2 separate regions of the Homo sapiens genome follow, and region 2 is linked to region 1. The links come from fine-mapping of genetic effects on gene expression. A gene starts in region 1. The other region holds a variant in brackets. All regions are shown on one strand. Distances are between the middles of the regions. Region 1 holds the start of DECR1 (2,4-dienoyl-CoA reductase 1). Region 2 overlaps NBN (nibrin).

What was found. PIP is the estimated chance that this variant, and not a neighbour inherited with it, causes the effect.
Region 2: its variant is fine-mapped to the expression of DECR1 in whole blood (TOPMed, PIP above 0.99).

Annotation. Positions count from the first base shown.
Region 1 is chr8:89,990,433-90,005,232 of GRCh38, reverse strand. It overlaps DECR1 (2,4-dienoyl-CoA reductase 1), which reads right to left and starts at 3,756. Exons shown (of 10, transcript NM_001359.2): 1 at 3,672-3,756. The coding sequence starts at 3,740. RefSeq lists enhancers at 3,130-3,269, 4,118-4,412 and a silencer at 3,740-3,839.
Region 2 is chr8:89,972,133-89,980,132 of GRCh38, reverse strand. It overlaps NBN (nibrin), which reads left to right. Exons shown (of 16, transcript NM_002485.5): 5 at 1,810-1,913. Among named protein-coding and RNA genes, the nearest start is that of NBN, 8.5 kb to the left of the region's middle. The variant A/G (reference allele first, on the strand shown) is at 3,679.

The sequences.
Region 1 (14,800 bases):
CCCCCAGCAACCTGACTGATCTCGTCTCCACACGCTTCTCTCTGTTCCCATACTTCACCAACTCCACAATACCAAACAAACCACTTGAATTTTTATAAATAAGCCACTCTTTCACTTCTTGATACATGCTATTCCTTAGGTCTATATTGCCATTGGGACCACACAAATTCCAACTCCTGATTTAACAGCAGGCTCCTGGGGCCACCTCCTCCATGAAGCTTTCCTTGCCTCCTCTAGGTATGTACAGTTTGGGTCATATATGCATTATAATACACATCTGCATCTTCACAGTCTATTGATGTCTGCTGGTGACTCACTAGACTATCATTTTTCAGATTTTTCTGACTGTGAACCATAGCAAGAAATGTGATTTATATAGCAACATACACATGTTCATAGCAACACAGTACACACGTTCATTCATGTAACAGATATTTGTTACATGTTTACTCTATGCTAAGCACTGTTCTAGGTATAAACAGTGGACAAAACAGTTGAAAATCTTTGCCTGCATAGAGCTTATATTCCAGAATTTTACACTGAATAAAGAAATACTTAGGCTTCCAGATTTAAAAAAAATAAAGAAAACACATCTAGTTGGTTTTATACTGCTCCAAGACAATATTCATCGTGAGAAAACAATGAAACAATGTTGACTAAGGGAAAATGTGACATCCAAGTAAAATTATGCCTATCCATCCTTTTACCAGAACAGATGCCTGGAATGATATACACCAAATGCTAACCCAAGTTAATTCTAGGTGGCCAGTTTGAGGTCATATCTTACTTTGTTAACTGTATTGCTGAATATTGGCCAGGAATCATTTTTCTAAAAATAGTGATTTTACTCTTGATAGTTACTATTCTTTTTTTTTTTTTTCTTTTTGAGATAGAATCTCACTTTGTTGCCCAGGCTGGAGTGCAATGGCGTGATCTTGGCTCACTGCAACCTCTGCCTCCTAGGTTCAAGTGATTCTCCTGCCTCAGCCTCCTGAGTAGCTCCTGCCTCAGCCTCCTGAGTAGCTGGGATTACAGGCACGCGCCACCACGCCCGGCTAATTTTTATATTTTCAGTAGAGACAGGGTTTCACCATGTTGATCAGGTTGGATAGTTATTACTCTTGATAAAAACAAAAGGAAAAGAAACATGGCAGTGTGCATGATAGTAATCAAAGAATGAATCAAAAAAGGAAGAATGGTAAATTTTTTTTTTAAAGTTTCACAAAATGAACAACCTTACTACATGAGATGAATTTAGATATATCCTATTCTATTCCATTTTTTTGTTTTTGAGATGGAGTCTCACTCACTCTATCGCCAGGTTGGACTACAGTGGCGCGACCTCAGCTCACTGCAACCTCTGCCTCCCAGGTTAAAGCGATTCTCCTGCCTCAGCCTCCCAAGTAGCTGGGACTACAGGCGTGTGAAACCACACCCAGTAATTTTTGTATTTTTACTAGAGACAGGGTTTCACCATGTTGGCCAGGATAGTCTTGATCTCTTGATCTAATGATCCACCCGCCTCAGCCTCCCAAAGTGCTGTTTTGCTCCACTAAATTGATTTCAAGGCCTACTCATTGGTTATTATTTGTGGCTTAAAATACATATATGAGACTATAGTACATTGAAGGCAGGAATGTCTTTCAACCACAAATTGCCAAAGAATGCCCAATACTTAATAGGTACTTAATTAATTAGTGTTTCCTCATAAACAACTGAATGACTGAATGTTTTCCTCAATAGAACTGAGAGCAACTTGAGAACAGTTGAGAGCAGGGCTCGTATTTTTTAAATTTTGAGTCCCAGGGCATAGCACAGGGCCAGACATAAAGCCAGTCCTCAATAAATATTTATTAAATTGAAATGAGGCCTATTAGCCAGCAGCACAATTTAACACAGCACTTCACAAACAGGTTTTATAACAAATTAAACATTTGCCTTGGTTCTTGGTAACAAAAATATTCAAATTAGGGGTTTTAATTATAACAACTTGTATTTGCCCACAAAAACATGATGTTCCCTGGAACAACCTCCCACATCACAGATGTAAAGACTTTTCTTCTCCCAGGAATTCAAACTTGAGGCTACATGTGCTAGGAAGGGGACAAACCACACTAACAGGTACCTCTCTTGCCTCCCAACCCTGAACCTCAAAACTTCCATATTTTTCTTCAGCAAAGGAATTTCAAAATTGTCAGATTACAATTAATTTTTAAATGAGTTCATTTTCTCCTTCTCAAACTGTATTGTCTAATGGTGTCAGAAGAGCTTGGATAAGGTCTGTATGACCTTATTGCTACAATCCTAATGATGTGTGTTAAAAAATGAAATCTCTGAAGACATCACAGAGCTGTTGTAGATTTCAAATGAGAAATGTCTCTGAAAAGTATCAGAAAATATGGGCTTCCTTTATAATGATCTATAACCCAGTTTTCACAGGGAGAGAAAAAAAATCAGCAAAACCCTAACCCTGAACAAATCTCACTTTTTAAAAGAAAGATACCTTACTTGAGGGAACCACCATACTAATTCTTTGTATTCCTATTTGGAACTACTGCTGCCCATATTTTTTGAAAAACAACACCATGGCTGTCTATTCTATCAAATCAAAAGAAGTTTTTTCACAGTTGACATATTAATTTTTCTACCTGGCTAAAGAAAATGTGCTTTTTAGTTTACTTATAACAATTTTGTAATTTAGATGTGGGGAGGGCTTGTCTTGGATATTATTGCTTCTTTTTGTTTTTGTTTCTCTTTCTTCTTCCTAGCTGTTTTCACTTCCTAGCTATTTCCACTATGGGTGCAATGGAGATGGTGACAGGAGTGTGGGCCAGAGAGAGGGGGAAGCCAGTGTGAGACGGACCTCTCCCAGCTATACATCTGGGAAGGGGAGTCTATAAACAGCTGGGGTTTTGTTTTTGTTTCATTTTTATGATAATTTGTTTGTATTAGTGTTTAATTCCATAACTAACACATAGATGGACTTTCCTCACAACAAAGGACGTCAAAGGTCAGTGCTCGCTCGGCCTGATCCCCTCTCACTCCTTAAGGGGTGGACGGGCGCCGTATCCTTCCCTACCTCTTTCTACCTATTTACACACAAGTTGGAAACTTGCAGAACTGTGAAAACTTCGAAAATCACGTCTCTTCCCTATTCCCCTACACACATCAGGGCTTCATCTGACAGTGGAATACGACCCGGGCCCCGGTGCTCACTCCCGGCGTTGCCCTTCGCTCCGGGACCTGGTGGTCCTCTCTCTCTGCGCCCCAAAACGCCCTGTCCTAGCTCCCTGAGCCCCAGGGACGCCGGGTCCTCTCTTTGTGCCCCAAGACTTCCTGCCCTTTCTCTTGCGCCCCGAGACGTCCTGTCCTCTCTCTCGCTCCCCGGGTTGCTCTGTGCTCTCTTAGCGCTCCAGAACGCCCTGTCCTCTCTCTTTGAGCCCCGGGACACCCTGTCCTCGCTCCCCGAGGCCCCGGGACGCCCTGTCCTCTCTCTCTCTGCGCCTCGGGATGCCCTGTCCTCGCTCCCCGAACCCCCGGGACGCCCTGTCCTCTCTCTTTGCGCCCCAGGATGCCTTGTCCTCGCTCCCCGAGCCCCCGTGACGCCCTGTCCTCTCTCTTTGCGCGTCGAGACGCCCTGTCCTCGCTCCCCGCGCCCCCGGCCGCCTTACCCTCCGAGGAGCGAGGCCACAGGGCAGCCGGGACCCCAGAGTAAAGAAAACCCTGGCCGGTAGCTTCATGTTGAGTCTCCAGAACTCGGGCCGGAAGGCGGCGCAGGCGGTTGGGCGCAGGGGGCGGGACAAAAAGAACAAAGTTCTCGGGGCTGGAAACGCTGCCTAGGCCGCCGGGGGATGGGACGGGGACTGGGACCCAGGCGGCGTGGACGCCCAGCGGCCCTGACCTTCAGAGTCCGGCCGAGGGCGCCGCCTAGCTGGGCCTAGCTGATGCTCTTTCCTGCTCTCTGGGCCAGGAGTGCTTTGTATGGCAGAGAATGGAGGTTCTTTGCGTCCTTGAGCGGGTGTACGAAACCCCGCGCCCTGCAAGGGTTTGCAGATTGCAGCTGCGCACCCCATACACTGCCTATCAAGGGCGAAACTCTTTTTCAGTCGTATGTGTTTATCCCTTAAGTGCGTGTTTAAGTGCAGAGTGCGCGTGGCGCCAAGTCACATATTATCAGAATAATAATATGTTGGATGTAAAACACGGCCTCACTTTCCCTAAGACCAAGAGGCTGAAAAACACTAAGGGCAGCTTCCGGCGTTTTGACTTTTCGCAGGACACACCGCCCCCTGTCGCCGGATGCAGCGTGACTGCGACCGCCCAGCCTTGGCTTTTTTCTCGAAGTTAAACACACGTTAAAGGCAAACACAGATTCAGTATATCATTCTCCATCTTAGTGTAATATACCTGTTGACACAAGGCATTAGCTCAGATCACATTTCTTTCCTCATTCGTAAAATGAGAATATTCATAGCTAATTCAGAATTTTAGATAAAAGAAGATGGGTGTGAGGCCCCAGGCTGAGGCTGATGGTAGATGATATTGAGTGTTTACTATTTGCCTGGCATGTTCCAAATGCTGATAAAGAAACATTTATATCTTCAGAGGAATGTACACTTACATGTAGACATATAGCTTATAAGGTATATAAACTCTGAAAAACTTTGTAATTTTGAGTTGGTCTGGTGATAATTTCCAGGCCTTCTGCCTGTAACTGGTTACAGAAATAAAAACTTTCTTCATCCCCAGTTCATCGACATCTCATTATTGGCAGCAAGAAATAGCAGCCTGACCCTCAGTTTGGTCCAGGAACAAAACTACCACAGATTGGGTGGCTTAAATGGAAATTTGTTTTCTCACAATTCTGGAGGCCACAAGTCAGCAGAGTTGGTTTCTTGTGGAGCCACTGTGGGACCATCTTCTCCCTGTGTCTTTACATGATCCTCCTGTGTACCTTTCCATATCTAAATTGCCTCTTCTTATGAGGACACCAGTCGTGTTGGATTAAGGCCCACCCTCAATGACCTAATTTAACTGGAATTACCTCCCTAAAGACTCTATCTCCAAATATAGCCACATTCTGACATACTGGGGGTTAAGAGTTCAATGTATATATTTGGCTGGGAGAAGAGGGAAGTACACAATTCAGCCCAGAACACTTGCCCTCTTAAATAACTTTTAGACCAGCTTAGGAGGCATTTTCTGTCCTCCCAAAAAAACCTTGAGAATATATCAATAATAAAACTTTTCCTAAGCTCTTGATATATGTATGGCACTGTTATTCTTGACTTCCAAACCAAATTGTAAGTGGGATTCATCTTGTTTCTAAAAAGAAGTTGCAACATTAGTGATACGGTTTGGATTTGTGTCCCTACCCAAATCTCATGTTGAATTGTAATCTCCAGTGTTGGAATTGGGGCCTGGTAGGAGGTGATTGGATCACGGGGACAGATTTCTTCCTTTGGTGCTATTCTCCTGATAGAGTTCTCAGGAGATCTGGTTGTTTAAAAGTGTGTGGCACCTCCCACCCTCTCTCTTCCTCCTGCTCCAGCTGTGTAAGACAGCCTGCTTCCCCTTCATCTTCCACCATGATTGTAAGTTTCCTGAGGCCTCTCAAGTCATGCTTCCTATATAGCCTGCAGAACTGTGAGTCAATTAAACTTCGTTTCTTTATAAATTACTCAGTATGAGGTATTTCTTTATAGCATTGTGAGAATGGAGTAACACAATAAGTAACTTAAAACAATTAATCATTTATTATCTCACAGTTCCCAGGAGTTAGGAGTCTAGGCACAGCTTAGCTGGATCCTTGGCTCTGGGTCTCAGAAGACTGCAATCAAGGTGTCAACTAGGCTGTTTTTATCTGGAGGCTCAGCTGGAGAAGATCTGATCCCAAGCTCATCCAGATTGTTTGCAGAATTATTTTCCTCATAACCATATAACTGACAGCCCCACATTTTTGCTGGATGTTGGCTGGAGTTGCCTTCAGCTTCTAGAAGTCACCTCCATCCCTTCCCATGTGGGCTTCCTCAGCAGACTGCTTACTACATCAAGCCAGCAAGGACAATTCTGTACCTCAGGGAGGCCCCAGCCCATCTTTTAAGGACAATCACCAGATTAAGTGAGGCCCACTGAAAATAGTCTTAACCCCTTTTTGATTAACTAAAATCAACTGACTTGGGACTGCAAACCAAAAAGTGACTGAGGCAGATCTCTGTGGGTTAGCGATCATTTAGCCAAGGTTGAGAACATGTCTGGGAAAAAAATGCAACTCACAAGAGCATCTGTAACCTATGCTTTTTCCAAAGGGGGTTTTGGGAAATTCTTTATTTAAAAAAGAAAGAGCAAGCAGGAGAGAAAAAAAAAAAAAGGAAGAGAGGGTAGACAGTGAGGCAGATGGTTCCATTCTTTTGAGGCTCTGATTAGCCTCAGTAAATCTACATTTTACATAAGATAAAGTAAACATGTGAAAAGAGGGAGTAGAGGAAATGATGCTATGTCTTGGGATTATGAAATTACAGCTATCAGTTTGGGAACAACGACAACAAAAAAGACAGTATTGGTGACTGAGTTTCCAAGCTTAACTTTCCTTATGGCATAGTGAGTTCACAGTCCCTATATTCTGTTTTTCTTTCACAGGATCTTAGTTGCATCTGCACAATTCTTTCACCTTTGCCATATACTGTTAACTAGAAGTGAGTCACAGTTCCTGTCCATACTTAAGGGAAGGGAATTATACAGAGCATGAATTCCAGGGACTGGGACTCATGGGACCATCTTAGAATTCTGTCTACCACAACCATACATTAGACATGAAAAAGAAGTTTGCAAAAGTTTTAGGTAGACCCCCTGTATTAGTCCATTCTTGCATTCCTATAAAGAAATATCTAAGACTGAGTAATTTATAAGAAAAGAGGTTTAATTTGCTCATGGTTCTGCAGGCGGTACAGGAAGCATGGTGGCATCTGCTTCTGGGGAGGCCTCAGGAAGCTTCCACTCATGGAAGGCAAAGGGGCACACTTTTAAATGACTAGATCTCAGGAGAATTCCCTCACTATGGTGAAGATAGTACCAAGTGGAATAGTGCTAAACCATTCATGAGAAACCTGCCCCCATGATCTAATCACATTCTACCAGGCTCCACCTCCAACACCAGGCATTACATTTCAATATATGAGATTTGGGTGGGGACACACATCCAAACTACGTTACCCACACTCTACAATCTAGTCAGAGGGAAATAGCTACATAAAACACTTAGGCAGCCTGGACTCTGGGTTCTGTTTTACTGTCGTTCTCCAAGCTTGGTACAGAAGCAGAGGGTTGGAACCTCAAAGGAATAAACCAGTTAGGAAAAATATAACCACTAGGAACTGAAAATCAGAGAGGCCTCCCCTAAAGGCCTGTATAGGACTTGGTGTCCTTCTTATGATACCGAGAGGGAAGAAAGGAGACAGGGCACTAAAGATGACTAAGGTTGAATTTCCCACAATTCCCACAATCATGGAGGAATGGATAGGGCTAGGAATGGAATTTAAATAAAATAAAATAAAATGATATTACCTTCATCCTTGAATATATGGTTGAATATTTATACCACTAGCTTGTCTTGAATATGAACAGAAAAAATGGTTATATTATTTTTAATTTTTAATATTTCCTGAAATCAAAAGGCCTAAAAGTGGGGTTCATCTTGTTTCTAAGAAGAAGTTGCAACATTGGTGATATGATTTGGATTTGTGTCCCTACCCAAATCTCATGTCGAATTGTAATCCCCAATGTTGGAATTGGGGCCTGGTGGGAGGTGATTGGATCATGAGGACAGATTTTTCCCTTTGGTGCTATTTCTTCTGATTTCTTATCTGATGGTTCAGCCTTAGTGACTGGCAGACTCCTACACTCCAGCAATGGCTGCTCCCCTCACACACATGCCTCCTCTCCCCACTTTCACATCATCACCCTAGTATGGCTGCCTCTGACCCCATAATCAGGGGTCAGCTTTGATTTTGTTTTCTCAGGAAAAGTTACCTTGACTTCTACACTAATTCAGGTCTTCCTACTAGGGAAGCATCCAAGTTTGGTGGTACCTGAAGCTTATAAACTTTGGGAAGCCATTTAAGAAAAAGATTACAAAATTAGATGCAAAAATGAATATTAACTTACAATATAAGAAGAAATTAGAACAAATTACAAATTCCAAAAAATTTACAGTATCCTAAATTTCACACAAATATAAAGTAATGTTTCAAACTACTTAAATGTCTAACACATCTCTAATTGCAATTTCCGTCTACATTTCGGAGCTGCATTCTCTTTGATCACCTCTTCCTTTATTGAAGATTTTATAAGCATATTTTTAATAGAGAGAATAAGGAGTTCAAGTGCTAAATCATACCTCACACACACTTAGATTTGCCACTCATAGGACCACCACAGATTTGTATCTGGCCAAGACAGAATTTCTAAAAATTTCTATTGTATGCAATTATTATCATATTTTTAAAAAGCATGGTGCATTCATAATAGTAAACACTAAATTGTGAATATTCATGATGGGGACAAACTTCTGTTTTGACTATGCATCCATGAAACCATATCCTCTGCTAACACTTTTACATAATTTGATACTAGCTTATGGCTTCATACACTTTAAACAATTCAAACTTTGCTTCTCCTCCAATTCCCATTTACTTCCAGAGCTGAGTACCACTGGACACTTCTACATTTCAATACCACCTCTGGCCCTGCACATAAATGTCACAAGGTGGGCAGAAAGTATAGTCCAGTCTGCTGGAAGACAGCCCCACCAAAGGACAGTATAGAGCATTAACTCTATAGTGAAGTGACAACAAACCACACAAGTATTTCTGAACTGATCTAAGAAATAAATTAATTCCCCAATTCAGTTTAGCAGACACCCCAACTGCTGGTGACCACTCCAACATCATCCAACATGAGAGGAATTTTGACAGAAATAGGAATGGAAAGAGAATTATTTTAACTCCTTTTGTTAAAATAACTTACTTTTGTGAATTTTACTGGAAAAAAGAAATGGCCCTGGGGCCTTGGAAGAGCTGTGCAAGCAAGAGGCCCTGAAATTTACTAGCTTCAGGTAAATCAGCCCTTGCCTTAGCTGTATGTTTTCATAGGGCACTGAATTTCCCTTTTGGGGGCTCTTGTTACAATTGCAATTGCGTCTTTCTCTTATATATTAGCAGCTGTGGGGCGGGGTGCCTACCTTTTTAAATTTACCATCCTTCTATCCCTCATATCTAGCACAATGTTTGGTGCATGGTGAGCCATCAAACACTTTGTTGAATGAGGTACTGAGACTGTTACCATTTTCTAATGAGGTTATTACAAAAGTAATTTAGAGGAGAATGTGCAGCAGTCATAGGCACTACTAAGGAACAGATGAGGGGCATAAAACCAAGAGGCCGTTCGAAATGCAGTAAGTTACAGTATTTCCATGAGGGGGAGCCATGGAGCCTGACTTCAGTGTCTGAGGATCTATTTTTCATGAAAGCTAGTGTTTCCCCACTTTTTCTGTATGTCAGATTCTGCACACAGTCTGTGTACACATTTCACTAATCGTCACAAGCACTTATAAGGCTTATATTATCAGCATTTGGGAAACTGAGGCACAACACAGGTAGGCAAACTGTCCAGCTAGTAAACAACGGTGATGGAATCTGAACCCAGCCTTGTCGCGCTATAGGGCCCCTGTTTTCAGCCACTGTATTTTACTCTGTGCTAGTGGGGTAGAACCTCGGGAGTCAGACTGCTGGGGTTTAAGCCAAGCTACATGTCTCACTAGATGTATAATGTTTAGCCAGTTACAAACTTTCTCATTTGATTCCCTTATCTGTGAGATGCAGATACAATAGTAAGGGTGTCAACTTCACAAGCTTCTACTCAGATTTAAATGACATAATATATTTAAAGCACTTAGAACAGAACATGACACATACAAAACAGCCAGCAAACGCTCGCTATCATCATGCACATGGAGAATGGCCAGTAATTAGCCCAGAATTAGCATAGAATCCCTGATACTACTATGTAATGATTTTTCTTTTCTCACAGAATCACAAGCTATAACTACTAAGCAAATTCAACAGGATTATTACCCATGAAATAAACTACCTTAAGGGAGAAAAAGAAAAACCTACAAAAGGCCTTGCCAAAAGCATTGGTGTCTAGAAATTATGCTTAGTGCAATTATATATATAACGTATTATATATTATATAATATATATTACATGTTATATATAATATATATTATTTATATTATATATAACATGTAATATATATTATATTAAATATTATATATAATATATATTATATTAAGTATATTTATATTAAATATAATATATTATATTATATTAAATATAATATATTATATTAAATATAATATAATATATTATAGTAAATATATATTAAATATAATATATTATAATTATAATATAATATATGGTATATAATATATTAATAATACATATTATATATAATATATCATATATAACATATAATGTATCATATATGATATCATATATAATATATGTTATATTATATTAGTGCATATATAATTGCACTAAGCATAATTTCTAGACACCAATGCTTTTGGCAAGGCCTTTTGTAAGTTTTTATTTTTCTTCCTTAAGGTAGTATATTTTATTTTAAGTATAATATATATAATATATTAATATATTATATAATAATATATTATATATTATTATATTTAATATATTATATATTTATATAATATATTATAATTATTATATATAATATATATAATATATTATATATAATTATTATATATAATATATTGTATATTATATGTTATATATATAATATATATTATATATATATTATATATAATATATTATTATAAATTATATATATAATTTATTATATATAAATTATATATATAATTTATTATATATAAATTATATATATATAATTTATATATAATAAATTATTATTAGATATAAATGTTATATATATATATTAGACGGAGTTTTGCTCTTGTTGCCCTGGCTGAAGTGCAGTGGCATGATCTTGGCTCACTGCAAACTGCGCCTCCCGAGTTCAAGCAATTCTCCTGCCTCAGCCTCCCAAGTAGCTGGGCTTACAGGTACCTACCACCAAGCCCAGCTAATTTTTGTATTTTTAGTAGAGACAAGGTTTCACAATGTTGGCCAGGCTAGTCTTGAACTCCTGACCTCAGGTGATCCAGGCAATCCAGGTGATCCACCCGCCTCGGCCTCCCAAAATGCTGGGATTACAGGCATGAGCCACCTTGCCTGGCCAGTGCAGTTTAATATTTTTGTTAGAGTCTAAAAAAAAAAAAAAAAGACACACAGTATCCAAAATACAGAGTTGTGTTTGAATGAAATTAAAGTTCACAGCTTCTGCCCCAGGAAAACAGGTTGAAGAGGGTGATCAGGCTTAGCCAGCTTGGGAATGTAAAGGCAAACACAAATTAAGAATAAGAGGCTTAATTCTTCCTGTTGAAAATAAAGGAAGAGGTTTCCCTTCCTCCCTTTGCTTAAAGCATTTGCCTTATAAATCTTGTCATTGCAAATTCTTTCGTTGTCTCTTTGAAATGTATGCAAATCTTTTTTTTTTTTAAGGCTAAGTAAGCCTCTTGCCAGCCTTACAATGCAGCAGTGTCTAAGGACCCTACAGCCACTCCTTTGCAAAGTAATAATCAAAGAAGATAGTGGCCCTATCCTATCTCCTATTTCTGTGGGAGAGTAGGAGCCTAACTTAAGCTGTTTACCTGGCTTCAAGTTGAAACCTACCCCCAGTCGTAAAGATAAAATAAGTTAATTTTTCCTTTAAATCAACCCAATTAGTTAATAAGGGTGATAACCCTAATTATCAAGTGAATTTGGTATGAACAAGGTGTGACAAAGGGTGCTATCAAGTCCTCTTACTTGAGGACTAATTATTGTTCCTCTTAAGAACACGTATGAAATGGTTGTATCTGCTTGCCTATATAAAGTGTGAGATTTATTTTTGTCTTCACAATCTCTAGTCAATTGCTTGTGGGTCTACTGGGGTGCCAGGAGATTTTGTTTTTAACTGGACATCCCCAACAGCAGTAAGCTGCAAGCAAACCCCTTGGCACCCAGCCCCAAAGCCATGTTGTTACACCAGCCTGTGCTGCTGTGGTGAGGAAGACCCACACCTTTCAGAAATGGACAGAGGGTTGCTCCACATTATTTTGGAAATAGAATAAATAGACTGAGACACTCTTTGACTGATATCTGACTCACTACTGAAGAATATCAGTAAGGCCCACCTGAAAGGGAGAGTCATGCTTACTTCTGGTGGAAGGTGCCAGACATGTGATTGCTGACGTCCTTAAAGGGCAAGTCTGAGTCGGGGAAAAGGGAGCTACAGTTAATAATGTTCCTCCCTCTGGATTTTTGCTTTTTTTTTTTTTTTTTCCTAGAGACCGGCTCTCACTATGATGCTCAGTCTGGCCTTAAACTCCTGGGCTCAAGCAATCCTCCTGCCTCAGCCTCCAGAGTAGCTGGGATTACAAATGTCAGTCACTGTGCTAGGCCTCTCTGGTTTTTTATCCTGCCTTCACTCCCCAGATTGCACATCACAGGAATTGCTCAAGAGTTGTGCTGTGCTCCAGGAACTAAGTCCATTCCATTTGGGAGCTGAAGGGATTGAAAGAGAGCTGCACTGAGAAGCAAAACAGCTGATGATACTGTTCTTGTCACAACTCTGTGACAAATTGGCTTTCTGTTACTGGACAAATTAACTTTTATCAGCTTTATTTTCCTCATCCATAAAACTAGGGTGTTTGCATAAATGAGATCAGTATAGAACTATAATATCGCTTGTAGGTCTAAAAATCTGTGATTTTGCAAATAAACTAGATTTGGCAGAATTGCTATAGGTAACCTGGTGTGGTACTAAGGAGTTCATTGTGAAATGCTGTTAAAATAAAATAGCTTAAATATATATAACATATTATATATAATATTAGCTCTTATGTATCTCTGGTGTTTGAATATTTCATCTAATTTACACATTTTAGGTAAATATTAAGCTTCAGAGTTTCAAAGTGCTTTGTAATTGTTAATTCGCTTCTTGAATGACTTCTGCAAGGGAGGCTTGCCCATGATCCCATTACATAGACTTATTTGTTCTCATTCAGTAAAGCCAAATCTTATACTCTGCAATTTGGAGTCTTATATTCTTTTATCTTTCAATTAAAAAAAAAAACTATGATTAAACAGCCAATACGATTCAAGTAATCCATTGATGTTTCAATTAATTCTACTGCTTATGCACAGATTAATCATACATATATTGTTATATCCCCATATAAAGAAGAAACAAGACACATAGAAGTTAAATTATTTATTCTAGTAAAATATATAATTATTATAGCAAAATCATTATAGTAAAGTAGAATGAGCATTGAGACACAAAAATAGAACTCATTGCTCCTTACTATCAGACATATTCAGAATAATAAAGATACACCTTGAATCAACACTTGATCTCCACATGCTTCTCATTCACCCACACTCCACACCCCACCGACCTTCACAGTTGCAATCTAAGTAAAAGTTGGAAAGAGGTTCAATGAGTAGTTAAGTTTAACAAAGAGTTATGCATCTTCCATGTGTTCATCACTATGGTAAATATGAGAAACAAAAGTGATTTAGACAGTAGGAACACAGACATGTCTTAGACACCAGCCCTTCCCTCATGGAACTATAAAGGAAGAAAAGGAAAGTCACATTTGCTTAACAACTACCATATATAATATAGTGTCTTGTGGAAGGAAAATAAAATCACTATGCCAAAAGGGAAAAGTTAAGCTCAGAAACTGAGTCATGAAAAAATATTTTTAAAAACCAAAACTACCTTTCCTTTTGTCTTAAACTGACAGATGGCCACGTATCTCCAAAGGGGACCTCCCTCATCCGATGATGTAAATTAACACGTTATCTTCACAAGTATGGGACAAGAGGAGACTAGAAATCATCCCGTCCCCCCACCCCACCCACCCCAAGACAAATGCATATTTGCTGCTTCCTCTATGTTTACTTTACCTTATGTAAAGTGCAGATTTATTGAGCACGATATGAATACATCAACTGTTCCCTCTCTCCCCTCCTTTTCTTGTGCAATGTGTGGATTCACAAGAGTGTGACCATACCCTCCCTCTTTTTCCCCCCCTCTTTCCCTTCCTGACCACTTTCCCCTTTAAATATTGAAGCTCTTAAAATCCTTGGAAAAAGTACAGGCCACAGATCCTACTGTGGCTTGTGTCTTTTTACCAAGCCTGTCCTCAACCTTGGCAAAATAAACCTCTAAATTGATTGAGACTTGTCTCAGAGACTTTTTGATTTACAATCTCACTTATTCCTAACAATAACACTTCAAGGTAGTTATTATTTAAGACCACTTATAGATAAGAGGAGACTGAGTTACCTTTGTTAGTTACCCATTGTGTGATCTTGAAACAATTAAGTCTAGCACTATTAAACTTACATGTTAGCTGAACATTCGCTGGAAATTAATGGCAGGGTTAATGGAATTTTGGGGGAGAGGACAAGGTAAATATTTTTAGGGTATGGTAAAGGAACCAAAGGGAGAAACTGAAAACAAGTAGGAGAAAGGGATAACTGATAAAGCAAAACCCTGGGGAAATGAGAGGAGATGGGTGTAAGCACATGGAGAAATTGATCCTGAACTGAATGGTAAAATCATATCATGAAACCAGAGATAAGAAGGCAAGGATAAGGCATGGGTACAGATT
Region 2 (8,000 bases), 22 kb after region 1:
GGTGGGGTTGTCTGTAATCAAGGGTTTTTTTATTTTTGCACATTTATGAAATTGATTTTATAAATTCAGCAGTGTGATTAGCCTCCAGAGTACTAATATATGCATATAAACTTACAAATAGTAGATTTACAAATCAAAGTGTCCATTTATGGTTTTCAGTAGGGATGCACCTTTACCAGAATATTTAAGTGTGGGCCCTAGCACAGTCCTCTTTAAGATATTACTTAAGAAATAGAGTAAGTAATCATACACTAGCTTGGTTGGTGTGAAATACAATCAAAGGTAGTTAAATTGTCTTGAGAGATATTTTACTACATCTGTGACAGACCTGGACACTTCCAGCGAGTGGGATGCTGATGACCACCTTGTGAATTGCTCCATTACACACACCAACGTGGTTTACAGAGTAATTTGTTAAAAAAAATTCCTGGTCATTCATATGCCAAAATAGAAAACCTTGTTGTTATATTTTTTTTTTTGGTAAATTTTCTGAAAGTACAGTTAGCTTATATTTTTTAAATCATTGAATGTTAGAGCCAAAAAGGAATTTAAAGACCATTTATTCTTACTATTAGCTACTTAAAAACAACAACAACAACAACAACAAAAAAAGCGTTCAGTTCAACTTTTATTTTCTGAAGTGTAAACTGAGGCATGGACCAATTAATTTCCCAAGTCACATGTATTAGAGTTTACCCAATACAGTGTTGATTTGCACATTACTGGTTCATGCTAGTTTATTTCTTTCACATTGGAAAGTGGTATCTTTCAGGTTCCATTCTTGAGAGACAATCTAAATCTGCTTGCCCCTATTTAGACAATAAAATACCCTGTGTTATTGAAAGCATATTCATGGCTGGGTGCAGTGGCTTGCGTCTGTAATCCCAGCACTTTGGGATGCCGAGGTGGGAGGATTGCTTGAGCCCAGGAATTTGAGACCAGCCTGGGCAACATAGTGAGACTCCATCTCTACAAAAAATTTTAAAAATTAGCTGGGTATGGTGGCATGTGCCTGTAGTCCCAGCTACTCAGGAGGCTGAGACAGGAGGATTGCTTGAGCCCAGGAGGTTGAGGCTGCAGTGAACCAGGATCACGCCACTGCAGTCCAGCCTGGACAACAGAGCGAGACCCTGTCTCAAAAATAAAAAAGCATATTTATATTATTCTGAATCTTATTTTCATTGCCCACTGTAGCATTTTCTAATGTTTGTCATATTTTTTGGATGTATCATATTTGAGGCTTATAGCTTAATTCACATGTGAGTTTAAGTTTCTTTTTTTCCACTTTATATGTACTTATTTTGTGCTTTTACCAAAAATTATTTTATTTACTTTCTCAAAAAGGCTTTATTGCATAGTTACAATCTTTTTGAAAGACAATTAGTCTAAAAATAGCTCATGTTCATCTCCTAATATTGTCTTCCCTGAAGCAGATATGTTACATTTCCTCAATTCTGAAATATATTTTTAACATTTTAATGTCTTCGAAAGTGGAATGCATTTTAAAATTGAATTTTATTTTATGTTGTTCCACCCTTTCCAAAAAAGCAGTTTTAAAAATTAGTATTATAATCGGTGACTTCTTATAATTGAGTGATTATACTGTGATTTATGTTCTAAAATAATGCAGTGACCAAAGACCGACTTCTATTTTATAGATTGTGGCTTCTTTATAAATTTAGAGAGATGAAAGGGAAAACATTATTTTTTATGGATGTAAACAGCCTCTTTGTAGTTTATAACTTAAAACTTTTCTTTAAAAAATGCTAGCATGTGAATATATATATTCACATGTTTTCTTCATTGTAGACAATATGTGCACTCATTTGTGGACGTCCAATTGTAAAGCCAGAATATTTTACTGAATTCCTGAAAGCAGTTGAGTCCAAGAAGCAGCCTCCACAAATTGAAAGGTATATTATGTATTTTAAATATAACAAGATGTCACTTATATGATAGCATTGATTTTTATTTAAGTTAATTCCCTCTTTAATGCTTGTTTCAGGATGTAATAGTTGCTGTGTTATAGTTCGGTATTATTAATGGAAGGTTTTTTGTTAGTTTGTAAAGAAAGAGTTCCCCAAATTTCTTTGTTGGTTATTCTGTATCTCTGAAACAAATGTTAAATATGTGCTAATATTTAAAGAAAAAAATGGAAAGACAGTAAATGGCACTGAGGTAACCTCATGGTCAGAAGAGCACATATGTCAGTTCCAGGCATCACGCCACAGTTAGCTCTGGAATTGTGTGGTGCAGCAGCCCTCTTTGCAAGCCACATAGTCCAGAATATTAACAGCACCATAGCTTTGGGAATGGAGCTTAGTTTTTCTGAGCTCCAGTTACTCATTGCAAAATTGAGAGTAATACCTACCTAGCTGAGTTAAAAAGTCAGGAAACAACAGATGCTGGCGAGGCTGTGGAGAAATAAGGCTTTTACACTGTTGGTGGGGGTGTAAATTAGTTCAACCATTATGGAAGACAGTGTGGTGATTCCTTAAGGATCTAGAACCAGAAATACCAATTGACCCAGCAATCCCATTACTGGGTATATACCCAAAGGATTAAAAATCATTCCACTGTAAAGACACATGCACACATATGTTTATTGCAGCACTATTAACAACAGCAAAGACTTGGAACCAACCCAAATGCCCATCAATGATAGACTGGGTATATGTCCATACCTATGCACATATACACCATGGAATACTATGCAGCCATAAAAGAGAATGAGTTCATGTCGTTTGCAGGGACATGGATGAAGCTGGAAACCATCATTCTCAGCAAACTAACACAGGAACAGAAAACCAAACACCGTATGTTCTCACTCATAAGTGGGAGTGGAACAATGAGAACACGTGGCCACAGGGAGGGGAACATCACATACCGGGGCCTGTTTGGGGGTGGGGGACAAGGGGAGGGAGAGCATTAGGACAAATACCTAATGCATGTGGGTCTTAAAACCTGGATGACAGGTTGATAGGTGCAGCAGACCACCATGGCACATGGATACCTATGTAACAAATCTGCATGTTCTGCACATGTATCCCAGAACTTAAAGTAACATTAAAAAAAAAATTTTAAATGTTATGCCAGTTAGGAATTTTATTGCTAATTTTAATGTGTTTTGAGCTGCTATAAGCTATTTGGCTTAATGTTAGTTTTTTAGGGACTGTTTATACCGGATAACAGCTGTCTGCTTTTAAAAGTAATAAAAAATCAGGTTTTCCTCTTTGTTTATAATTTTTATCTGGGAAGTTTTTTTGTATTTATACTCCAGTTGGCAGGTAATGTGATATATTTGGACTCTGGAAAAATATACTCAGATTTTAAAATAGAAGATTCTTAAAATTTTTTGAGTCCAAGACCCCTCAGTATGTGCCAGGTCTGACCCGCAGACCCTGACCCAGCGACAGATGAACAAATGCACTCAAACACAGGTATCCAGTGAAAGAGTGAGCTAGGGGGCTGGGCCACCCACAGACACTGAGGAGGGTGCTGTAAAGAGTTAGCAGCCGCGGTCCCGACTAGCTGTTGCTGTGGTCATTTATTCAGTATAGATATAATGGCAAAGGCTTTGAGTCAACACACTTGTGGATAATTAACATGGTTCCCCTCCCAGGAGAGAGCAGTCCTACGAATGATTAAAGGCCAGGTTCCGAGCTAAGTAACTTATCT[A/G]GATCAGTTTCTTAACATCCCGTTATCTAACCTAAGCTTTCAGGCACCGTATAAAAGAATCTGGCTGCTTTCAGCCAAATCCTGTTCCGAAACTGATGTAAAACCTTTTGGCCTTCCAAGGTTTGCATCTTTCTACATTTTTTCCCACCACCCTGACTGAACTCCTGCAAATATGAAAGCAGGCCAGCCCTGGTGGCTCACGCCTGTAATCCCAGCACTTCGGGATGCCAAGGTAGGCAGATCACTTGGGGTCAGGAGTTCGAGACCAGTGGGACCAACATACTAAAAATACAAAATTAGCTGGGTGTGGTGGCAGGTGCCTGTAATCCCAGCTGCTTGGAAGACTGAGGCTTAAGAATCCCTTGAATCCAGGAAGTGGAGGTTGCAGTGAGCTGAGATCCCACCTCTGCACTCCAGCCTGGGCGACTCAAAAAAAAAGAAGTTGAAAGCACTGATCTCACCTCAAGAAACTTCACCGACATAACTACAAACTTGCATAGTATTTTAACAGAATCACATTTTTCCCTGAAGCCTCTTGAGGAACCTCCCTGAGGAAGTACATAAATCTTGTAAATAATGACTCTAGCTGCAAATAGTGAGCTATTCTTAATTCTAGATTATACTTGAGGATAGAGGAGTCTGATAAGTTTTCACTACTAGTAGATATATTTCATGGTCTTGGAGTTTTTAGAATTAGTCGTTGATTCCTCTTTTTGTTCACATTGTCAGTTGTGTTTAACCTAAGGTTGTTTTTGACCAAGTTCAACATAATTTTTTTCTAGATTCAATTTTTGATTGTATCAATGTACATGACGACTATACAACATCCCTACCATAAGATTGTTGAATCCCTCCTAATTCGGTGTTAACTGGGACAGGTTATTTATCCTATTAACCCATATTCGATGATGGCAATTGATAATACAATTTTTAAATATATTTAGTTATTTGCCTTAATAGAGTCCTATACCTATCTGGATCCATTTTGATGTGCTTGTTGAAGGCTTATTTGTCTGAGTACTCAATTAACAGAAAAAAGATTCAATTTATAAACATTAGTAGAAGGAATGGGTTACGAAAAGGATATGAAATAAATTGTGGTGACGCCTTTGATTACATAAGTACCTCTAATGTTCCAAAAAAGCATGACTGCTAGTCCTGGATTTAAATTAGGAGGCATACTATAATATTTTTTCCAATAAAATATACAGTCCTATTTAGTACAGCTATGTCTACATCTTTGCACTGTTACCAAGAAACAGGATATGACAGTTATAACTTCATGTACATGAAATGATTTGCAATATCTCATTTTCCTTGACTGTCATCAAAGTAGTAAAGTAGATGAAGTCATTTTTAGAAGAATACATTTAAAAGGAGTGTTTAATTTCAATAATCTGTGCTCTAATAGAGGAGATTTGTATGTCTAAATGTAAGGAGATTATCCCCCAGAAAGGAGGGGGAGTTGGCTTTTATTTGAGTTTTACAAAGTCTCTCATGTTGTAGGATGGTGTATTAATTATTTCAAACAACAAGTATTGTTTTAGTGAGACACTCTTGAGAGATGGAGTCCTCCATGGGTCCCTTGCATTCATAAACAATTTGCTGAATAGGCCAAGAATGCAAAGCCTTGACCCTCCTTTACACAGACCATTTCTCAAGGGTATGTTTGCAGTGAGAAACCTCGAGGGATGAAGTAATGTTTCCTTCCTGTGACAAAATGTAGGCTTGCTTAAAGCTTGTTATAATACCGGTGGTTTCCCAAGTTCAGTGTTCCTCTCTCCTGTAACACACACCACTGTATGTACCTTTCACTGTATGTACCCTCTACGTCTTCCCTATGGGACTTGGTCAGAGAGGAGACCTGCAGCAAACATACTGGGGCTCATGCTGCTTGCTTTGCTGTGACTCAGGAGTGTTTGTCTTCTGCCAGCATCCATGAAACAGGAACAGGTTAACTTACCAGCTGATAATCAAATCTCAGACCCAACAGACACATTGGCCTGAAATAATCTCAGTAAATGAAAGTTTGACAGTTTAGGAAGCTTATAGAAGTCACCTTACATAGTTAATTTAAATCGAAGGTAAGAAATATGACTAGTATTAGTAATTTTTTTCAGGATATGGAACCTCACATTTGCAAATTGTGGATGTCACTGTAGTCTAGCCTTTTCAAGATCACCAAAAAAAAAAAAAAAAAAAAGCCATATAGTAAATGGTTCTAGAAATTATGAACATATGCCTGCAGGACTAATGAAATAAACAGCTGTCCAGATATTGAACAAATAAGTATGTGTGGCTTGGGATACAGTTTCTAGAGCCAGAATTATACATGGATTCAGAAAAATTCTGTATTTGCAAAATCTTCGTACAGAAGTGAAAATGATATACTGTAGGTTAGATGAAATTTATTGAAGATCATGTAAAGAATTTAAATAGAAAATGTGAATGGGAAAAAGCAAAATTTCTAGATTAATATCATTTTATAGAATGTATGATTCATAATATGTACCAGTTACTGTGTAATAAAACATAATTATTTGTAGCTCTTAAAGTTTCTGTATAAACGAACCCAAAACATTTTAATTTTTTAATGATAGAAATTGGAGATCACTTTATATTTGTAGTATCGTTATATTCAGTCAATATGCCTCTAGCCTAGGTCTCTGACAGGTTACTTTCCTATTTTCCAGTTTTTGTACTAGTTTATTAAATTACTAGAGTGTCAGAAATGCTTTAAAACTTCTAGAATGTAATGCTTCAGACGTAATGATTTTCAATGATCTCTTCACATTCATCACTAGTCTTTTCTTTCTTGCTCTCATCATTACACTGGTAAAGAGAAAAAGGCTTATGTAGGTATTTGAAATTCTAGAACATAGTGTTTTTTGATCACTGTGTTATCAATTATCTATGTATGAATGTGTCTATCATATATCAAATGTAGGTATTACTAAGAATAACCCATGTTGGAGTCATAGCCAGCATTTGGTTAGCTTCTAGATAATACAGTTTTGTATTTTTTTGTTCAAGATTGATCTTACCAAGTATTGGGGCTCAAATTTATCAGTGTTCTCAAAACAAAACCAAAATACATTGTTCAAGTTCTAGAATTTTAATACTTAAATCTATACTTGAGGGAATTGAAGGATGTTTATACTTTTTATTCACTTTTAAATTATTAAGTTGAATTTTTATTTATATTTTGTAATGTCAGTTTATTTGTAAATATGTATTGAATGCCTACAGTGAAGCAGGCAAGATAGACTTGTGGATATAATGATGAGCCAAAAAAAGTTACAGTTTCTGCCCTCATGGCACTTAGTGGAGAAGCCAGCTGTTAAAGAATGACACTAATAAAGTTAGAACTCTGGTAGAGCCATTAGAGAGGCCTAACAGGCTACCATACACATATGTTTAGGAACCTGGCTCAAACTTCATCGAACTAAGCTACAGTTAGCTGCTCCCTGGCTACTGTAAACTGTTATCTATGGCATAATTAAGAATGACAGTGTGAATAATAGAAAGCTGTAGATAATTTAAAAATCATTCAACTTTAGTGTTTTGGGAAAGCAGGAAGAATCTCACATCTACTCAGTCATAGTTTTATAGTCATGTTTGACTGTAACACACAGTCATATGTGTTAAACATTTCCTTACTGTTTTTGTCTGTAACTGGCTCTGTAATCTGTCCTAGTGTTGTTACATTATTGTGTGAACTAATTGGTAAACTAGTTATTTGTATATAAGTAAAGTGTTAGTTGGCTTTTACACTAAGAAAGAAGTATAAGTTATGGGGGAATATTTATTAGGAGATAAAGGATAAAAAGGATTCAAAGAGATATTAAAATTGATCCTTTTTATGTGTCCGAATGTCTACTAACTTTCCAGTGCTCTTATTGTAGATTTAGTTTTTGTTAACAGTTAAAATAGTTTCCACTGTTCTCTGTATATTTTAAAAGTAAAATAAATAGAATTTTAAAGTCGGTTGTTTAGAAAAACCATAACTAACGCAGTTGCCTGCATTCTGTCCTGCCAAGTGAGTCTGCTCTTGCCTGCAGATAACTCATTTGAGATTGCAGCTTCCAGAAATCATTGCTTTAAAACAGACTTACAGCATCTATTGTAGTGAAATTAAAATACATGCATCAGTTATCAAAAAAATTTTAAAGTATTGTAACTCTTCAATCATAACTTAGCTTTACTTTATGAAATATGTATGTTTCCAAGGAGAAGTCCAGGGGAAAGATGTAAGGTAATTAGTTCTAAAGTGCTGGATAGTGACTCTTAATGACTGCAGTGTTTTTACCACGTTGGATGTT